Linked DNA regions of Homo sapiens. The protein of the gene in region 1 interacts with the protein of each later gene in a pairwise test. Each region holds a gene or a part of one and is shown on either strand. Other genes may lie near its edges.

Region 1 (3,500 bases):
GCCACTGCAGTGCAAACGGGAACCCAAGCTTGTTCTTTTGGTTCTGCTGCAGAAGCAGAGGACGTGTAAGAGCTGCATCCATTGCTGGAATTGCCTGTAAGGAATGGGGGATGGGGAGCACCTCAGACCTGGGAAGGAGGGCACCGCCAGGCTGCTGGGGCATCCTTGAGCTGGTTTTGGGGTTGCCCATGGAGGAATCCTGCGACACTGTGGGGAGAGTCTTGCTGACGCACTGCCGCACAGTCCTGGGGTAGGAGCAGCTCCAGGGCGCACAGCCTCAGCATCGGAGTGGCTGTGGCTGCAGCGGGGCAGCGGGGCAGCAGTGGTGAGCTGCCACACCAACATCCTGGAGCTTGGTGCTCGCCCTATTTATTGGGCCTCTCGCCTGTGGCTGAAGCCCCTTCCAGGTGTTAGTTCAGAACCAATGATGGAGGCTGGGGGCAGTGGGTAGTGTTACCACCACAGAGCCCCTCACCCTCGGGCCAGCTACTTCTCACTTCAGCCTCAGTTTTGTCTTCTGTAGAATGGGGCTTCTCACTGACATTATCTCAGAGGGTGGCACTTGGGATTGAATGAGATGGAGCATGCAGGGCCCTTTTCATGTTACCTACTTCGTAAGTGCTCAGCAAATACCTGTTAGGAACAACCTCTGGCAATCTCTGCGATCTCTGTGTTCTGTTTTCCTCTTTAGGAAACATTTAAATCTTCAGATAAGTATAAATCTGGAAGCCAATTATTTTTTTACAAAAATAGCTTGAGTTTTCCGAGCTCAGATTTGCATAAACCTAAGAGAGTTTGTCGCCCTGCTTCCCAACTAACAGATTTACTTTTCCTTTTCATGGACAGGGCTGCCGGTCACTTGCTGCAGGGCACCCGGGATATATCAGCCATGATAAAGAGACCTCCATTAAATACGTCAGCCACCAGCACCCCAGCCACCCCCAGCTCTTCAGCATTGTCCGCCAGGCCTGTGTCCGGAGCCTGAGCTGTGAGGTGAGCCTTGTGGCCACAGAGCCTGTCTCTGTGGGAGCCCACATGCTCCCAGGTGCTCTGGGTGGGCTCGGAGCCAGCATTGCACAGGGAGGCAGGCACTGGTCCTCTCTCAGGGCGGACCCGCAGATCAGCACAGCACAGGGTACAGGACGCCTCCCTTGTCCAGAATTGCGGGAGGAGTCATGTTGGACTTGCTGAGCATTTTCTGATTGAGTGCTAGCTTTTGCACTTTAAGCACCGAACTTTTATTATTTGTCCTTTCTTTATTATTATTGTTTTCTTTTTTCCTTCTTTTGTGTCAGGGTCTCGCTCTGTCGTCCAGACTGGAGTGCAGTGGTGCCGTCATGGTTCACTGCAACCTCAAACTCCTGGGCTCAAGCGATCCTCCCGCCTTAGCCTCCCAGGTGGCTGGGACCACTGGTGTGTGCCACCATGCTCAACTGGGGTTTGTTTTTTGTTGTTGTTAAGACAGAGTCTCACTCGGTTGCCCAGGCTGGAGTGCAGTGGTGCAATCTCGGCTTACTGCAACCTCCACCCTGGGTTTAAGTGATTCTTCTGTCTCAGCTATCCTGAGTAGCTGGGACAACAGGCGTGTGCCACCATGCCCGGCTAATTTTTTGTATTTTTAGTAGAGAAGAGATTTCACCATGTTGGCCGAGCTGGTCTTGAACTCCTGACCTTGTGATTTGCCCGCCTCGGCCTCCCGAAGTGCTGGGATTACAGGTGGGAGCCACTGTGCCCCACCTTTTTAAAATTTTTTTGTAGAGATGAGGTCTCAGTATGTTGCCCAGGTTGGTCTCGAACTCAAGCAATCCTCTGGCTCATCCTCCCAAAGCACTAGGATTACAGGTGTGAGCCGCCATGCCCAGCCATGTGTGTCTATTCTTGATGGATGTATTCCTAAGATAGGAAGCATTTCTAGGTTAGGTGGTTCATTGCATCAACATCACCTTTTTTTATTATCTCAGTCCTCATTCCAAGTCTCAGTGATGATCCCGTGCTGCTCTCAGCCTGCTGAGGTGTGGATGATTTCTTCCTAAACTACGTCGCTGCTGCTGTTGCTCTTGACTCTGAGCTCAGGTCTTTGTTACAAAGAATTCGTCGTTCAGTTACTAAACTTCCTTGTCATTGGTGTCCACCCAGTTCGACACACCAAGCTCCCTTACTGTTCTCATTCAGTGTGGCTGTGTGCCTGCCCTCAACTGTCCTCTCCTTTTAATTTCCTACCGCTGGTCTGCTAGCAGGCAGCTCGGCATGTCTGTTAGAATTGTGTGTTAAGGAAGAGTAAGTATGTAATGAGGAGGGACTGAAATCCTCTTATAAGAATAAAGTACGTGGGGCTGGGCATGGTGGCCCACTCCTGTAATCCCAGCCCTTTGGGAGGCCAAGGCCGGCAGATCACCTGAGGTCAGGAGTTCGAGACCAGCCTGGCCAACATGGTGAAACCCCCTCTCTAAAAAAAATACAAAAAAATTAGCCAGGCGTGGTGGCACACTCTTACAATCCCAGCTACTCAGGAGGCTGAGGCAGGAGAATTGCTTGAACCCAGGAGACGGAGGTTGCAGTGGGCCAGGATCACACCACTGCATTCCAGCCTGGGTGACAAGAGCGAGACTCCATCTCAAATAAAGAAAGAAAGAAAGAATAAAATGTGCGGATTTCAGTGCAGGGAGAGTGCAGTGGCTGCTCTGACCTGCTGGTTCTTCTGCATGCTCCAGGTGAGTAAGCTGGTACATTTGAGTCTGGGAGAGGTGTGACATATGCATGGGAGTTATTTATGGCTCAAGGTGGAAGAAAAGCAATAAGCCTTGTTACCGGCCCTTGCAGTCCACAATGACAAGTGTTGTTGGAAGCTTGATCACAGGAGCAGAAGAGTACAGTCTTCGGCTCTCATGGCCCCCACTGTGCCACTCTCCCCGTTATTAACGCTGGCTGATTTGTGCCAGCTGACTCTGAAAAGTCTGAAGAAGAGGCTTTGATTTGGTGTCACTAAGCGAGGAAAGGGCTGTCTGAGTCGCCGGTGTCCCTCCAGGTCTGCCCTGGCCGTGAAGGCCCCATCTTCTTCGGAGATGAGCAGCACGGCTTTGTGTTCAGCCACACCTTCTTCATCAAGGACAGCCTGGCCAGGGGCTTCCAGCGCTGGTACAGCATCATCACCATCATGATGGACCGGATCTACCTCATCAACTCCTGGCCCTTCCTGCTGGGGAAGGTCCGGGGAATCATCGATGAGCTCCAGGGCAAGGCGCTCAAGGTGAATTCAGAGATGAGGTGCCGGGGCGGCAGGGGGCCCTGCACTGCATGAGCCGCTCTGTGCTGAGGTTGAGGCCTGGAGACCGCGTGGCGTCTTCCCCTCTGCTTACAGCCAGTGCACTGTGTGAATTGTAGTCTCTTGGCTTCAGAGCTGGAGGTCGTGAGGAGCCTCCCAGGCCATCCCGCCTGCTTTGCTGGTCTCTCTTGTGCCCGTTGTCCTGGTTCTCGCTCAGCTCTGGTTTCTTTGCTGCAGT
Region 2 (3,500 bases), on another chromosome or scaffold:
TGCCAGGTCTAGAAACTCGATTTGTATGAGTTTACTCAGGGGTAGGGAAGTAACACACAAAGACTAAATGCAAAGAGACTAGTGTATAAACCAGAATGCCACTCTATTAATTTGTAATGAGAATTATTTATTTTCCATAACAAAACTTTAAGAATATGCTATAACACACGCACGCACGCATACGCGCATGCACTACCCTCACCAAGAAGGCTCCTGGTAAGCATGGTATCAATGCCACGAAGTCCTGGAGAAACATTCCCTCTCCTAAGAATTGAGAACATCTAGAGCTGCTCCTTCATTTTACAAACAAGGAGATTGAGGCCCAGAGAGATTAAGTGACTAGTTCATGATACTTGTGCAATGAGGCAGTGGGGGACCTGGCACTGTTATTACAAGCATTTATTTGAATTCTGTAGTACCACTGCTGACACTAATTCTGTTCTTTCTGCAGAGAACAGAAAAAACGCAAGCAGCAGAGAACAGGAAAAGGAAATCGAAGAGGCAGAAAGAGACAACAAAACACAGAATTGAAGGTGGAGCCTCAGCCACAGATAGAAAAGGAAATAGTGGAGAAAGCACTGGCACCTATAGAGAAAAAAACTGAGCCACCTGGGAGCATAACCAAAGTATTTCCTTCAGTAGCCTCCCCGCAAAAAGTTGTGCCTGAGGAACACTTTTCTGAAATATGTCAAGAAAGTAACATATATCAGGAGAATTTTTCTGAGTACCAAGAAATAGCAGTACAAAACCATTCTTCTGAAACATGCCAACATGTGTCTGAACCTGAAGACCTCTCTCCTAAAATGTACCAAGAAATATCTGTACTTCAAGACAATTCTTCCAAAATATGCCAAGACATGAAGGAACCTGAAGACAACTCTCCTAACACATGCCAAGTAATATCTGTAATTCAAGACCATCCTTTCAAAATGTACCAAGATATGGCTAAACGAGAAGATCTGGCTCCTAAAATGTGCCAAGAAGCTGCTGTACCCAAAATCCTTCCTTGTCCAACATCTGAAGACACAGCTGATCTGGCAGGATGCTCTCTTCAAGCATATCCAAAACCAGATGTGCCTAAAGGCTATATTCTTGACACAGACCAAAATCCAGCAGAACCAGAGGAATACAATGAAACAGATCAAGGAATAGCTGAGACAGAAGGCCTTTTTCCTAAAATACAAGAAATAGCTGAGCCTAAAGACCTTTCTACAAAAACACACCAAGAATCAGCTGAACCTAAATACCTTCCTCATAAAACATGTAACGAAATTATTGTGCCTAAAGCCCCCTCTCATAAAACAATCCAAGAAACACCTCATTCTGAAGACTATTCAATTGAAATAAACCAAGAAACTCCTGGGTCTGAAAAATATTCACCTGAAACGTATCAAGAAATACCTGGGCTTGAAGAATATTCACCTGAAATATACCAAGAAACATCCCAGCTTGAAGAATATTCACCTGAAATATACCAAGAAACACCGGGGCCTGAAGACCTCTCTACTGAGACATATAAAAATAAGGATGTGCCTAAAGAATGCTTTCCAGAACCACACCAAGAAACAGGTGGGCCCCAAGGCCAGGATCCTAAAGCACACCAGGAAGATGCTAAAGATGCTTATACTTTTCCTCAAGGTAAGGGCTGTTTATAGCACCAAGGTAGGTACATCTCCCCCAGAGTAGTGATTTACAACTTTCTCTGACAATCCTGGGTATTCCCTGTTATTTCAATGGATACTGTGAATTTCATTGACTAGTTTTAAGTGAACAATATTTTCATGCAACCAACGTCTGTCTTGGCATATTTCAAAGAGTTAAAAAAATTGAAAATGCAAGCATGTACATTAAGTACTTATTCATACTATCCATCCATTATGAGATGCTATAGTCAGTGAAATGAACCCAATATAGGATGAATTATTGCAAAATATTTTTAAAAATTAAGTCTACATTAACAAGAAAGCTTGATGAATGAAGTTTTTCTAGGAAATTTAATTTGCCTGATAAATGGAAAGCAGGTAAATTCATAGTACGAAGTACTGAGGGAGATAAAAGCTGTAAAATATAATCCTGTTACTAGGGAATTCATTCTTGTAGGATTTATCAGGTTTACCAAAAACCCTTTCTATTTCAAGATTTGTTCCTGAAAAACTTTTTCCTAAGTATAGGAATTTGAAAATAATGCAACCTTTCTTTAATTTCACTTGCCTCAGAGACATAACTGAGAACTTCAGCTCTCTTTGTACAATACTGTAGACAGTATAAGAAATGGACTGAGTCTATCAGACCATAGTTATCCCCAGGAAACTGATTTCTAAAGAAATCCCTTTAGTAGTTTACTTGCTCTTTATCCTAAAAGATGAGTGCAACAAAAACATGGTGCTAGTTGGTTTCCAAGTAATACCAGTTTTGAAGAACTACTTTAAAGAAATACATTGCAGCAAAAGCAGGCATGTGAAGCAGTACGTGCACTGACAGGAGTACCCTGCTGGAGAAGCAGCTCTAACCAACACAGCGTCCTGATTCCTAACTGCTTCATTCTAAACCCAGCAAGGTCGATATGGTCAATTAATTAACGCTTATTTTATTTTTGGCTTTGTTTGACCAAATAAATGGGAATATCTATTTTTCCTGATTATAAAAGTAGTAAGTGTTCATTATAATAAAGCAATATGTAAGTGAATATCAAGTAAAGTAAAAGTCCCCTATAATACCATCTTCTATCTTCAGTTCCCAATGTTAAGGTTGTTTTGTTTCAACAAATGAGACAGTACCCATCCTATCCTGTAACTTGTTTTTGTTTTCATTTACAATATGTATTGCAGCCATCTTTATGATGTCTTTTGTAACAACTGCATAGTACTGTGCTATATGTATATTCAACCAGTCTCTATAAGGATGAACACTTAGGTTACTGCCAAGTTTTACTATTACAACAATGTTCAATGAACATCATTGGGAATAACATTTATTTAGTTAACATTTATCTGGTACTTTTCTATGTGCCAGACACCATATTAAATATTTTATGTGGTTTATTTTATTCAATGTTAAAAGCTCTACTGGATAAATAATACTCCCATTCTAAATATAAGGAAATGGAGGCACTGGAGGCTGAAGTTTGTCTGATTATTTCCTTTGAATCAACCCCTAGAAATCAAATTGTTGGGCCAAACGGTACCCAAATTTAAAGTTTGAATATACAGTCAGTCAGACTAGCCTCCAGAAATGTGGTAGCAATTCACACGAGACAGGTGCCTTTTCCCCACACCCTTGTCAGCACTGTACATTATGACATTTTAAAAATCCTTGTCTGTCTGCTAGGTTAAAAAATACACTTGATCGGCCGGGCGCGGTGGCTCACGCCTGTAATCCCAGCACGTTGGGAGGCCGAGGTGGGCGGATCACGAGGTCAGGAGATCGAGACCATTCTGGCTAACACGATGAAACCCCGTCTCTACTAAAATTACAAAAAATTAGCCGGGCGCGGTGGCGGG
Region 3 (2,943 bases), on another chromosome or scaffold:
CCTGCAAGTTAAGACCAGCAAGAATTAGGATTGCAGAAAATAAGAAAGAGAGTTTTCTTGGTGTCTCCTAAGTTTCTTTGATTCCACATCCATTCACCGAGCACCTACAAGGTATGTATTTGGGGCTGTGCTAAAAAATGTGATGAGAATCCTGTTCCCAATAAATAGAAAATGGAAAAATGGAGACAGCCTCTCATCATCTCACAATAGGTCAGATTGCCCACAGAAGCCCCAACGAGGGTATGGTTGATTCTGGTTATGGGGCTGAGGCAGGCATTACAGAAACTGTACCATTTAGTAACACCTTAAAGGCTGAGAAAGTTTGTTACCAAGCTAAGGAACCGGGCAGGGGTGGGAGGCAGTGTGTAATTTACAGGAGAGGAAACTGCACAAGTGTCTGCTTAGCAATGTGGAGAGGGATATGGTCCTGGAGGAGGAGCCTGTGGGACTCGGGTGTGCGTGTGCGGAGCTTGGGGGCAGGAGGGGAATCCAGGATAAGGTGAAAGGAGAGATGAGTAAGCTGGAGAGAAAGCCTGGGGCAGATCTGAGGCCTCCTTGAACGTCCTGCAAACATTTGAGCTTCATCTCTAGCAAACAGCAGCCATCGATGGCTTTTAAACAAAGAAAGGACAAAATCAGATATTCCATATAGAGCAAGCTCCACACAGCCATTTCTTCTCTTCATATTCACTAGCTTGTAACCTCTTTAGGGAGATGTCACGATGGGCACTCTCGGTCTCGAGATAACTGATAGATGCACCTCAGGCAGGCCTAGCAAGGGGCAGACACCACTTGACGGGCATTTGAGTGGGGGAACCACATTTCATCCCATCTGGGACCATGGACCCCAGAAGGGAAGATGTTTTACTGCCATGAATTCATTCATTTGTTTAACTTTATTATCCTAATTTTCTTCTGCCAAGAGAAAGTAGCAAAGGCTGACATGGAGACTGATTTTTGATGTCTCAGGGTGAGAATTCCAGTCTCCAGTACTGAGGTGAGAACTTCATCGTGGGCTCAGTGTAGACGGAAGCCCAATCCACTCCATCCCTGCTTCCTTTCACCTTTAGGGTAAGTCATCAACCAATAGATTTCCACACTGCTCAGGAGCCCCACATGAGGCCCAAGGCCCTCGATCCCAAGGATCCCTTTCATCTCCGGGGGATGCCCCTGCCTCCAGAACGGCCTCTGGTGCCAGATGCCCAGAACCTGCACCACCCTCCCCGGGCCCTCACTTACTGGGGGGAACTTCTTCCTCTGGATGTACTCAGTGACGGCAGGGTCAAAGTCCCTGGCGTAGCCCTCGTTAAGGCTGTAGATTTTACCTTTCTTTTTTATCTTCACATCCTTGTCCACCAAAATGAACTCCCCGATGGCCTTTTTAGACAAGGAAGGAAAGGTGGAGAGATGACGAGCGCACTGGGTCCCCCAGGCCTGGATGAGGCGAGCGATGGGCTGGGCTACGCTGGGCTGGGGTCGCGGCGCACGGGCACCACTCATCTTGGGGCCCCGAGACACCTGCCAGGCTCTCTGGGAACTGTGAATGGGGTGAGGGGAAGCAAGACAATGCTGCAGAAGCCATCAGGGTGATAACAGACACTTTCGACTTTGTTTGCATATGATTTCAGTCAAACAAGAAAGAAACCACACAAAAATAGGGAGAGCAGACTTGTGAAACAACTGCTAAGCCTGCAAGAGAGTAAGAACCGTGTGTCCAAAGCAATATAAGATGTGTATGCCTTTACCAAACAGAAAAAAGGGTTGGTTCAGGCGGGAGGTGGGCTCTCAGGAGAGACGGGCCACCGCAGGATCAGTCCCTGAGTTACACCCAAGTGCTCAGCGCTGTTCTCGGCTTTACATTTCTACCTTGATGGGAGTTCTCCTTTCTGGGCGTTCTTATAGAACAAAGTAGAACCCTGAGTTTTGAGTCTGGCGTACGTAACTTCCGATGGCCTTTGCTCGCTGGCGTGTGAAGTTTTTCTCAGACTGCCTCTTCCCACATAGCCCAGGGTTAAGCTTATGCCTTTAAGCTTTAGGCTCTTCAAAGGAGATTTGAATTTGGGGGAAAAGTGTTGCAGAAGTCCTATTGCTCCGGATTGAGGATTGTTATGGGTTCCTGTGTGTTTTTGGCAAGAGGGTGATCGAGGCTCTGCCCATTTAGGAGGGGCTTGACGTTGACACAAGAGTTGAAAAGAAAAAAGGCCCACCGACACCTCTCTACCTAGCCATTTATTCCACAGCAGAAATTGGTTCCTACCCATATGGAATACGTTGAAACCAGACAGACAGGGAGAAAGGGAGGGGAGAATTCACAGTGGCCATTGAAAGGTGTCACTGGAAGTGATTCTTCTTTCTTACTTTTATGCCTTTTTTAATATTTTCAAAATTTTTGACCACAAGTATACCGGAATATTCTTTTATCGTTGGTAGAAAAATAAATAAATAAATGTCTTTCAAAAAACTATATAGAAAAGAAAGCCATCTCACAACAGTTGCTGGGTGCAGAGCGCAGGGCCCAGCCAGACTGTCCATGGTGCAAAGGAGGAAAGTCTGTGTACAGAGACAAAACATAAAAGCTCCCAGAAAGTTGAAGCCGCTGGAAACCCGAGTACAGCTGTAGCAGTGTTTTCAGCAGAAACCGTCAGCCTGGCTTTGCAGCAAGCGCAAACAAAGAGGAAGCACTTAGCACCTCCCTGGCGGGAGGCTCAGCCCCGTCAGGCACCGCAGACAGAAGGGCTGGAATCAAATCCCAGCAGCCCTGCATTGCGCTTCCAAACATTCAGGACTGAGGAGGGCAAAAGACTATCAAACACACAGAAGCTTCCCTACAGGGATGCTCCCCTGCAATCTGGAAACAAGAAGGGATTGAATGTTTTCTCTGCTTCCACCAACTCAAAGGTAACAAGAGAAGGCACCAGAAGAATGGGAAGCAGTCAGGGCCCG
Region 4 (3,500 bases), on another chromosome or scaffold:
GAACTGCACCTGGACTGGGAAGACTATAAATGAGCCATAACCACGTGTTTAGAAGCACAAGCTTCCCAGTACTAGTGGAGGAGGCAAACGAAAGACATAGTTAGGTTTGTGAATGAAAAATTACAGAGGGGACTAAGACAAAACTTAAGGCCCAATCACTCTAAAGGATGCATTTCAATTAAACTCTCAAACTTGACTGATATGGTTTGGTTCTGTGTCCCTGCCCAAATGCCGTGTCTAATTGTAATCCCCAACGTTGGAAAAGGGGCCTTGTGGAAGGTGACTGGATCATGGGGGGCAGATTTCCCTCTCGCTGTTCTCATAATAGTGAGTGAGTTCTCACAAGACCTAGTTGTTTACAAAAGTGCATGACACCTCCCTTTGTTCTCTCTTCCTCCTTTTCCGGCCATGTAAGATGTGCCTGCTTCCTCTTTGCCATCTACCATGATTGTGTTTCCTGAGGCCCTCAGCCATGCTTCCTGTATAGCCTGTGGAACTGTAAGCCAATTATACCTCTTTTCTTTATAAATTACCCAGTCTCAGGTAATTCTTTCTAGCAACGTGAGGATGAACTAATACACTGACCAGGTGCTCTGAACTTGAAATTCCAAAGAGTAGAGTATCATTCAAATATGCATCTTTTCCTCAGAGAACATAGTCCTTCTCTAAGCTAGTCTTCCCACTCAAGCTCTAAATGCCACCCCACTGGGGTGGGGGGACCATACTTCTTCAAGATCAAGGCTAAGTGGGACATCTACCCAGAAGGGGTCCCTGTCAGTAAATGGTGTCCTCTATCATGCCCACACTCAACTCCTACCTAAAAATTGTCTGATGAGCTTCCTGGGTATTCTTTGGTAGTTTAGACCAGAGGTACTGCAATCAATTGTGTAGTGTGTCACAAATAATTTGTTACCAATATAATGTACCAAATTTTGGCTTACAACCTTTTCCCTTTAGCTCAGATAAAAACATAATATCCCTTTAATAAGTCTAAAAAGGGAGGAAGAAGGGAACCAGTAAGCAAGAAAGATATACAATCCTAGTCCATGAGAGTGTGCCTGGTCCACATATGTGACTGAGGAAATAATCCATCTTCCCAACTCATCTGAATATTACTGGGGAAAGAAAATTGGGAACTCTGGCTTTAGAGACTGAATATTTCTAGTAGGGGTGGAAAACAAAAACTCTTTCTTATATGGTATCATGGTTTCTAAGCTATAACAAAAAGCAAGAAGGGTGAAAAGAATTTTAAGCTAAAGGCAATAATTTTTCCTTACATTCTCTAACTTCACACCAAAATCTGTATCATACATAATATGTACAGGGAAAATGATACAGATAATGGAAAAACAAAGTAAACTATTATGCTCTATAAAAAGAGGTTTAACAAATATATGGCAATAACATAGTTTTACTGAAATTAAAATAAGTTATCTAACTCTTAAATAGCTATAATCATTCCAAATTTGAGATGATATTAGAACTATAAATAATAATTATAATTCCATGTTAGGATCAGCTAGCAACCAAGAACTAACTAAATAAAAAACCAAGAAGCATGGTTTATGTCTTGAGAAGATGAAAATAATGAAAAAAAACTAAATTAGTAATAAAAAATCTGAAATATAAAGTAATAAAAAAATAAAGCTTCGAGGATTTCTCATTTTACAAATTTGAAACACTACCAAATGTACAAATAAGATTACATTTATACAATAATAAAGATGGGTCTCTGAATAAATAAAATGGATTTTACCTGTGCAATGACCAAGATGCCTTATATCAATTTGTTCTTGCTTTATACAAGATGCTTCTCGAACAAAACAGGGATTGTTATAGGAACTCCCATCAGAAGCACACACAGGATTAAAACTGTATCCACTGCAATCTATATTACATACACACCTGTTGGAAAAGACAAAAATTACCTATATTTTACAACAAAAATATTTCACAATGCTGCAACAGCAAAAAAGACCAATTCTTTCTTCTGCTTTCTGTAACAGAAGTCAATATATTGTTTTAAGTCACTGATGAAAGCTTAAGCAAAGTAAATACCTAAAAAAATTTTAGGTGAGGATTTAGAGATAATTTCATCAAGATATTATGAATCCAGTGGTTTCTCTGGAATTTTCATATCTAGATAAAGTAATCAGGAGATGTCAAATATCAATGACATTAATTAAATAGCAAAATGGCACATTGTAAAGGACACAGAATTATGAGTCAATAGTCACAAATCTAAATTCTACCCCTAGTTATTACCAGATTTGTATCCAAATTCTTCCTCTAAGTCTTAGTTTACTGATCAGTAAAATGGAGGTAATAATAATGGCCAGGCATGATGGCTCATGACTGTAATCCCAACACTTCGGGAGGCCAAGGTAGGAGAATCACTTGAGCCCAGGAGTTTGAGACCAGCCTAGGAAACAAAGCAAGACCCCATCTCTACAAAAAATAAAAAACTTAGCCAGGCACAGTGGTGTGTACCTGTGGTCTCCACTACTTGGAAGGCTGAGGCAGGAGGATCACTTAAGCCCAGGAGGTTGAGGCCGCAGTGAGCCATAATTGCACCACTGTACTCCAGCCTGGGGGACAGAGTGAGACCCTGTCTTAAATAAATAAATAACCTACCTTGCCAAATAACTGGGAAGGTTAAAAAATATAATAGACATGAAATATGTAAAATGGAAACCCTCAAAAGTGTTTTCTAGCTACATGTCTATCTGTGTAACTGAGTATCCACTGAACACTGAGTGTTGTACTACAGAGAAGGCAAAAGAAGTCCAAAGCAAGATTACTCCCCTCAAGAATAGTAAAATCTAGTTAGGAATAGAGAAACAAAAATAAAAATACAGAGACTCTCCTGTTTATAGCAACACAGAGGACTAGGAACCTTTACTAACCTTCCTGATAAAAACAACAAAAAACACTGGACAAACATTTTAAAACATTCTCTTAAATACATTCACAAGTTGGTAAGAAAGTCAGGAATATTTAGGACAGAAGTTATAAGTACACAGGCACAGAGAAAGGTCAATTGAGCTCTCTAAAGCTGATTTTCACTTTGAAGGCATTTGCCAAACTGGGTAAATTCAATTACCAATTTTTTGGCTTTGCAGGCCTGATGTGGTTTGGCTGTGTCCTTACCCAAATCTCATCTTGAATAGTAACTCCCACAATTCCCGTGTGTTGTGGGAGGAACCTGGTGGGGGGGGGATTGAATTATGGGGGAAGGTCTTTCCTGTGCTGCTCTCATGATAGTGAATGAGTGTCATGAGATCTGATGGTTTTTAAAATGGGAGTTTCTCTGCACAAGCACTCTTTTTGCCTGCTGCCATCCACGTAAGATGTGACTTGCTCCTCCTTGCCTTCCACCATGATTGTGAGGCCTCCCCAGCCACGTGGGTCTGGGGAACTGTGAGTCCAGTTAAACCTCTTTCTTTTGCCCAGTCTCGGGTATATCTTTATCAGCAGTGTGAAAACAGATTAATACAATA
Region 5 (2,857 bases), on another chromosome or scaffold:
ATGAGGCCTGGAGATTGGTTCAGAAGCTTTTGCCAAGCAACAAATAAGAATTCCTTCATCCTGCCTCCCTGCAGTGTAAATGTGCCAAGGTCAAGTGGCTCTATGACTAGCTTTGAGTTTCACCTGGTGGGACCTCTTGTCCTTCAGGTCCTGGCTGCTGTCTACAAGGCCCTGAATGACCATCATGTTTACCTGGAGGGCACCCTGCTAAAGCCCAACATGGTGACTGCTGGACATGCCTGCACCAAGAAGTATACTCCAGAACAAGTAGCTATGGCCACCGTAACAGCTCTCCACCGTACTGTTCCTGCAGCTGTTCCTGGTAAGGCCTTCTTTCTTCTCTAACTCAAGGTCTTAGCCCTCATTCTTTGGAGAGCCACAAGCTTTCTGTTTGTCCAGAAATCTGCTTCTATTCATGAAACAAACCTCTGTTATCTCACAGGCAGCCAGCACTTCTTCTCCCACTTCAGAATACCAAGCATCCCAAGTCTGCCCAAATGCCCACAATCCATGTATTTCTTCAACATTTCACTGCCTTCCTTACGTATTTAAAGCACTTATCTCTAGCCCAACTAGCTTCAGCAAAAGCAAACTGATTTCTCAGTTTGCTTTAAGGCAAATTAAGCAGAGAAAAGACTGAGACATTACTTTTCTGGTAGGTTCATTGCTTGCTTTCTCAAGCAGGGTATATAAGGTGGGACTAATAGAGTGAAATGGCTTCTCTCCTACCAGGCATCTGCTTTTTGTCTGGTGGCATGAGTGAAGAGGATGCCACTCTCAACCTCAATGCTATCAACCTTTGCCCTCTACCAAAGCCCTGGAAACTAAGTTTCTCTTATGGACGGGCCCTGCAGGCCAGTGCACTGGCTGCCTGGGGTGGCAAGGCTGCAAACAAGGAGGCAACCCAGGAGGCTTTTATGAAGCGGGCCATGGTAAGATGCTGCCACCTCTTATCTACTTGATGATGTTCACATTTGGGGCTTGACTTTCCAACACGGAGAAGCATTGTTTTCTTTGGGCCAAGAAGGTATCTACCGATAGTGTCTATTAGGCATTTGAAAATGTGGCAGTAGAGGTCAGTATGAGGATTGAGGCTAGAGAGAATTTTGAATTATCCACACTAGAGTATAGTTGATGACAGGAGACTGAAGGACAATTTCAACAGAAACACTTCAGAGGGAAGGAGATAAGAGGACCAAGAACTGAACCTAGGATACTTTTTATTTTGGGAAGATGAAGAAGAGAAGCAACCAAGAAAAGCAGCGATTATATTGTAGGGTGAACCAAGCATTCTGGGAATAAAGACAGAAGAATTTCTTTCTTTCATGTTTATTTGTTTGTTTGTTTGTTTGTTTTGAGATGGAGTGTTACTCTGTCACCCAGGCTGGAGTACAGTGGCACAATCTCGGCTCACTGCAACCTCCACCTCCTGGATTCAAGCAATTCTTCTGCCTCAGCCTCCCAAGTAGCTGGGACTAGAGGCATGCGCCACCATACCTGGCTAATTTCTGTATATTTTAGTAAAGATGGGGTTTCACCATGTTGGCCAGGCTAGTCTCAAACTCCTGACCTCAGGTGATCTGCCCACCTCAACCTCCCAAAGTGCTGAGATTACAGACATGAGCCACCACACCCAGCCGGGTAAACAATTTCAAAGGGCCAATAATAACATGCTATAGAGAGATTCAAAAGAAAGGCCAAGAAAAGACCCTGAGATTGGCATTTAGGAGCATACCAGTGACCCTCACTGAAACAGTTTCAATAAAGAGGAAAGGAAAGGTGCCCACTCAAGAAGTTTTTCAGAAAAAGACCCAGAAAGGTTGCCAGGAGAAATGAGGACCAACAAAGTTTTTATTCAAATAATAACCAAAATTTTTAAAATACGCTTTATGAGCCAAGAACTGGGGTGAACAAATGAGACATAGCCATGTCCTCCAGGAAGCTTGGAGTTTAGCCAAATAGGAGAGAGCTTGGCATGTTTAAATGTAAAGAAAGAGGAGCCAGAGGAGACAGTAAAGATGAGGAGAGTGGGGATAATTGAGTGGAGAAGAACTTAGAGGAGCAGGACTGCATGAGACTCAATATTAAGCATAGGTGGCACAGCTGGTGTAAGACAAAAAGGAGGGAAGAGGCAGAAAAGAGAATACAGTTGGAATCAGCTCTATATAAGTCAAGAGATGTAGCAGTTGATGACTGATTACAGTTGAGGGTATCTGCTGAGAATGATGAAGAAATGGAAATTTCAATACTGACAGTCGGAAAGCGTAGAAAAGCAGTTAAAGGAACTTGCTAGGAAATTGATCGGACGTTATGGCCAGACATAGCCAAGCATCAGGTAATGTGCAGCTGAAATAAGAGTGAGTGTGTGGTAGCTTCATTCCTGAGTTTTCCTAACAGCAGTCTAAAGCATGCAGGAAGATTCAGAACGCAAAATAGCGGGGTAGAAGAGTGAAAGTTTAATAGGAAGGTAGAAGAGTGACAAATTTTACCGATAGCCTCTGTTAGCTTGCTGACCATAGAGGAAGCTAGGCAAGGAATCAAGAGTAGTCAGAAGTGTGGTGATGAGGCCCTAAAGGGAAGGAAGGCCCCAGGGAAGCTAAATCATCATCTCACAGGCATAAGAGAGGTATCAGATTTTCAAAGTAGTGCTTTACCTTGACTGTGGAAAGCAGGGTGCAGCAGTGCTGCTGTGTGGCTGATGGACTGAGGAGACCTAGCTTACATGATGGAGGGATTGTGAAAGCGCAGGTCATCAGGGACATCCACACAGAAGAAGGGAAGCTGAGTTTATCATCAAGGATGGTGCTTCCCAAGCTCCAGTGTGGATCTGAATCACCTGAAGGTGATTTTGGTTTTG
Region 6 (2,797 bases), on another chromosome or scaffold:
ACAGTGTGGGACAGAGCTCAGGAAGGAGTGCTGAGCCTAGAGTCAGATAGACACAGGTCCTAGTCCCTGCTCAGCCTCCTTCTAGCTGGGTGACCCCAGGCCAGGCTCTGAGCCTCAGTTTTCCTGTCTTGTAAAATGGGGAAAACAACTAGGACTACCTGGTTTCTACCTGAGAAGTGACTTGGAGAACTCTTGCCAGTGCCTGGAATGGGTTAAAAACCACCTGCCAGCAAGTTACAGCATTGCCCTAGGGGAGAGGGTCCAGATGTCTCTCCTCATGTGGACCCCTCCTGCTACCTTCCTTCTAGAAATATTTAGCATCATTTGAGGAGGAGCTAAAGAGGATCCAGGATGACTGTACATCTCAGATAAAGGAGGCTCAGCGCTGGAAGGACAGCTGGAAGCAGTCCCTGCACACTATCCAAGGCCTGTATGTGTGACCCTCCGCCCCACCATGAATAAACACTTTCTTATACAGACTCCTTCCCTGTCCATCTACCTGCCTACCTACTTTCCGTCCATCCCTCCCTCCCTTCATCCCTCCACCCCTGCTCTGTGCCGGGCACTGTAGCTTTACCAGCGAACAGGACACAGCATGGTCCCTGCCCACGTGGAGCCCTCTTCCCATGAGGAAGGCAAGCATGAAAGGGGAATTCCACGTGGTTAGCAGGGAGGGTGAGTACCAGGAATCAGTCACTTCAAATAGGCACCAGAGCTTCAAAGGACATCACCTCCAAACAGCATGCTGGGCAGGGCACGTCATCTTGAAAAATGAAATAAAGGTCATGGGAAAATGATATTTTAATTTAACAGAATAAACAAGTATGGGTTATAATTGCAACTCTGCACTGGTTCCTAGACCCAACAAATAACTAATCCAATGTTGATTGGTATTTGTGCCACAATTTGTCTGAGCAAATTGCAATATTTTGGAAAAAAAAAAATCTTCCAGGCTCCTTTAGTCCTGTGTTGCCCAGATCATTCTCTTGGAGTCCTCCAGCCTGCCAGTCTCTTGTTCGTCAACTCTCTTCTTCAATTACATGGCGTGAGCGTACAGCCTTCATTTGTCGGTAGCTGTGTGTGTCATCTGGACAGGTTTCCTCAGCCATAGACCTAGGAGGCCCCAGCTCCCAAATTTCCAGCCCCTGAAAGCTGTGTGACCCTCCAAGTGCAGTTCCCTCACCTGGGGACACTCACTCTGCTCTCCTGGTTTGCTCCACCCAGTGAGGCCCTGCTTGGTTAGCTTGGTTAGCTTGGTGGCCTTTGTGCACTGAAGCCAGGAGAGTGAGGAGTCCCCTTCCATCAAGGCAAAAGCAATCTCCTGTTCTTTTCTGTGCTCCCCCCACCCCCACCCCAATGTGCTACCTTTCATTGCTTATTATTCCGAAAGGAATATATGCGCATTGTAGAAAAAAGAATTTATGAAACCAGCAAAAGGATAACTTTAAAATCCTGAGCCGGGCGCGGTGGCTCACGCCTGTAATCCTAGCACTTTGGGAGGCCAAGGCGAGCAGATCATCTGAGCTCAGGAGTTCGGGGCCAGCTGAGGCAACATGACGAAACCCCATATCTACTAAAAATACAAAAAGTTAGCCAGGCATGGTGGCACACACCTGTAATCCCAGCTACTGGGGAGGCTGAGGCATGAGAATCGCTTTAACCTGGGAGGTGGAGGTTGCAGTGAGCCAAGATCATGCCACTTCACTCTGGCCTGAGCAACAGAATGAGACTCTGTCTCAAATAAACGAATAAATAAATAATAAAATCCTGGAATCTAGAGACAGTCACTGTCCATAGCATCTTTCCATGTATGTGAGTTATTTTTATAAAATGGAATCATAACATGCATTAGGTTCCATAAACTGCTTGGTAAATGTTAACTGGATAAACCCTATGCCATATCCTTCAGTATTCATTTACATCATTGGTTTTCATACTTTTCTGACTCTGACCCACTGTATAAACATGTTCTAAACACACGGTCCTTGCACACATACACAACTTGAGACCAACAGGTCACAGGACAGCACTTAACCTTACTAGAAAGGCTGCTTTCTAATATTTTCTCCCTGCTTTTTAAATCCTAGCCCAGTCCACTAACTCAGTTCATGGCCCACAAAGGGGCTTTGATTGCAGTGTGGGACACTGTCATTTAAACAGCTGCAGAGTGTTCCCACTGCCTGGGGAACCAGATCGCCTCTGTCGGACAAGGGCGAGGATGTCCCATGCAGGGCTCCTAGAAAGAAGGCAGAGATGACATCCTCCCACATTAGCTCTTTGTACACATCTGTAATCATTCCTTAATCAGAGGGTGGCAGCTGTGGACATGGTGCCAAGTCACCCTCCAGGGAAACAGGCCACCCCCTCCCACCATTAAGCAGTGCCCATTGCCCATTGCCCATTGCCCATTTTTCTCGTCCACACCAAGGGTTCTAGTTTCAGGATTTGGGGGAAATTTTTTGCTGGTTTGGTTGGTGAGAAATCATATCTAAATCACTTTTCTAATAGTGAGTGAGACTGGACTCTCATCACCCCTATACCTGTACCCCAGGGACCCCCTTAGGCTCAAGAGGCCCAGCTTGACAAGCACTGAAGGAACCCAATGCCACTTTGTCTACCTTTTGGCTACTGTAGATCCACACAAAAACTTGTTCATGACTGCCCGTAGCAGCACTAAAAAATAGTGCTGTTATATCTAAGACTCCATTGCCTAAAAGATAGTGCTGCTATGAGCAGTCATGAACAAGTTTTTGTGTGGATGCATATTTTCATTTCTCTTGGGTATATACCAATTACT

The links.
Region 2: the proteins of FLCN (region 1) and HEMGN interact in a two-hybrid assay, tested with the Homo sapiens proteins (one large-scale study listed by BioGRID and IntAct).
Region 3: the proteins of FLCN (region 1) and FBP1 interact in a two-hybrid assay, tested with the Homo sapiens proteins (one large-scale study listed by BioGRID and IntAct).
Region 4: the proteins of FLCN (region 1) and TMEFF1 interact in a two-hybrid assay, tested with the Homo sapiens proteins (one large-scale study listed by BioGRID).
Region 5: the proteins of FLCN (region 1) and ALDOB interact in a two-hybrid assay, tested with the Homo sapiens proteins (one large-scale study listed by BioGRID and IntAct).
Region 6: the proteins of FLCN (region 1) and CCDC180 interact in a two-hybrid assay, tested with the Homo sapiens proteins (one large-scale study listed by BioGRID and IntAct).

Annotation. Positions count from the first base shown.
Region 1 is NC_000017.11:17,223,669-17,227,168, reverse strand, and holds part of FLCN (folliculin), read left to right. Parts: intron 1-846; coding exon 847-993; intron 994-2,657; coding exon of another isoform or gene 2,658-2,711; intron 2,712-3,025; coding exon 3,026-3,247; intron 3,248-3,500. UniProt on the Homo sapiens protein: Multi-functional protein, involved in both the cellular response to amino acid availability and in the regulation of glycolysis.
Region 2 is NC_000009.12:97,928,173-97,931,672, reverse strand, and holds part of HEMGN (hemogen), read left to right. Parts: intron 1-451; coding exon 452-1,638; intron 1,639-3,500. UniProt on the Homo sapiens protein: Regulates the proliferation and differentiation of hematopoietic cells. Overexpression block the TPA-induced megakaryocytic differentiation in the K562 cell model. May also prevent cell apoptosis through the activation of the nuclear factor-kappa B (NF-kB).
Region 3 is NC_000009.12:94,605,576-94,608,518, forward strand, and holds part of FBP1 (fructose-1,6-bisphosphatase 1), read right to left. Parts: intron 1,378-2,943; coding exon 1,240-1,377; intron 2-1,239; coding exon 1-1. UniProt on the Homo sapiens protein: Catalyzes the hydrolysis of fructose 1,6-bisphosphate to fructose 6-phosphate in the presence of divalent cations, acting as a rate-limiting enzyme in gluconeogenesis. Plays a role in regulating glucose sensing and insulin secretion of pancreatic beta-cells.
Region 4 is NC_000009.12:100,546,149-100,549,648, reverse strand, and holds part of TMEFF1 (tomoregulin-1 precursor), read right to left. Parts: intron 1,906-3,500; coding exon 1,757-1,905; intron 1-1,756. Other genes in the region: MSANTD3-TMEFF1 fusion protein, read right to left, coding at 1,757-1,905.
Region 5 is NC_000009.12:101,422,918-101,425,774, reverse strand, and holds part of ALDOB (fructose-bisphosphate aldolase B), read left to right. Parts: intron 1-147; coding exon 148-322; intron 323-732; coding exon 733-932; intron 933-2,857. UniProt on the Homo sapiens protein: Catalyzes the aldol cleavage of fructose 1,6-biphosphate to form two triosephosphates dihydroxyacetone phosphate and D-glyceraldehyde 3-phosphate in glycolysis as well as the reverse stereospecific aldol addition reaction in gluconeogenesis.
Region 6 is NC_000009.12:97,376,455-97,379,251, forward strand, and holds the end of CCDC180 (coiled-coil domain-containing protein 180), read left to right. Parts: intron 1-308; coding exon 309-440; 3' UTR 441-2,297; downstream 2,298-2,797.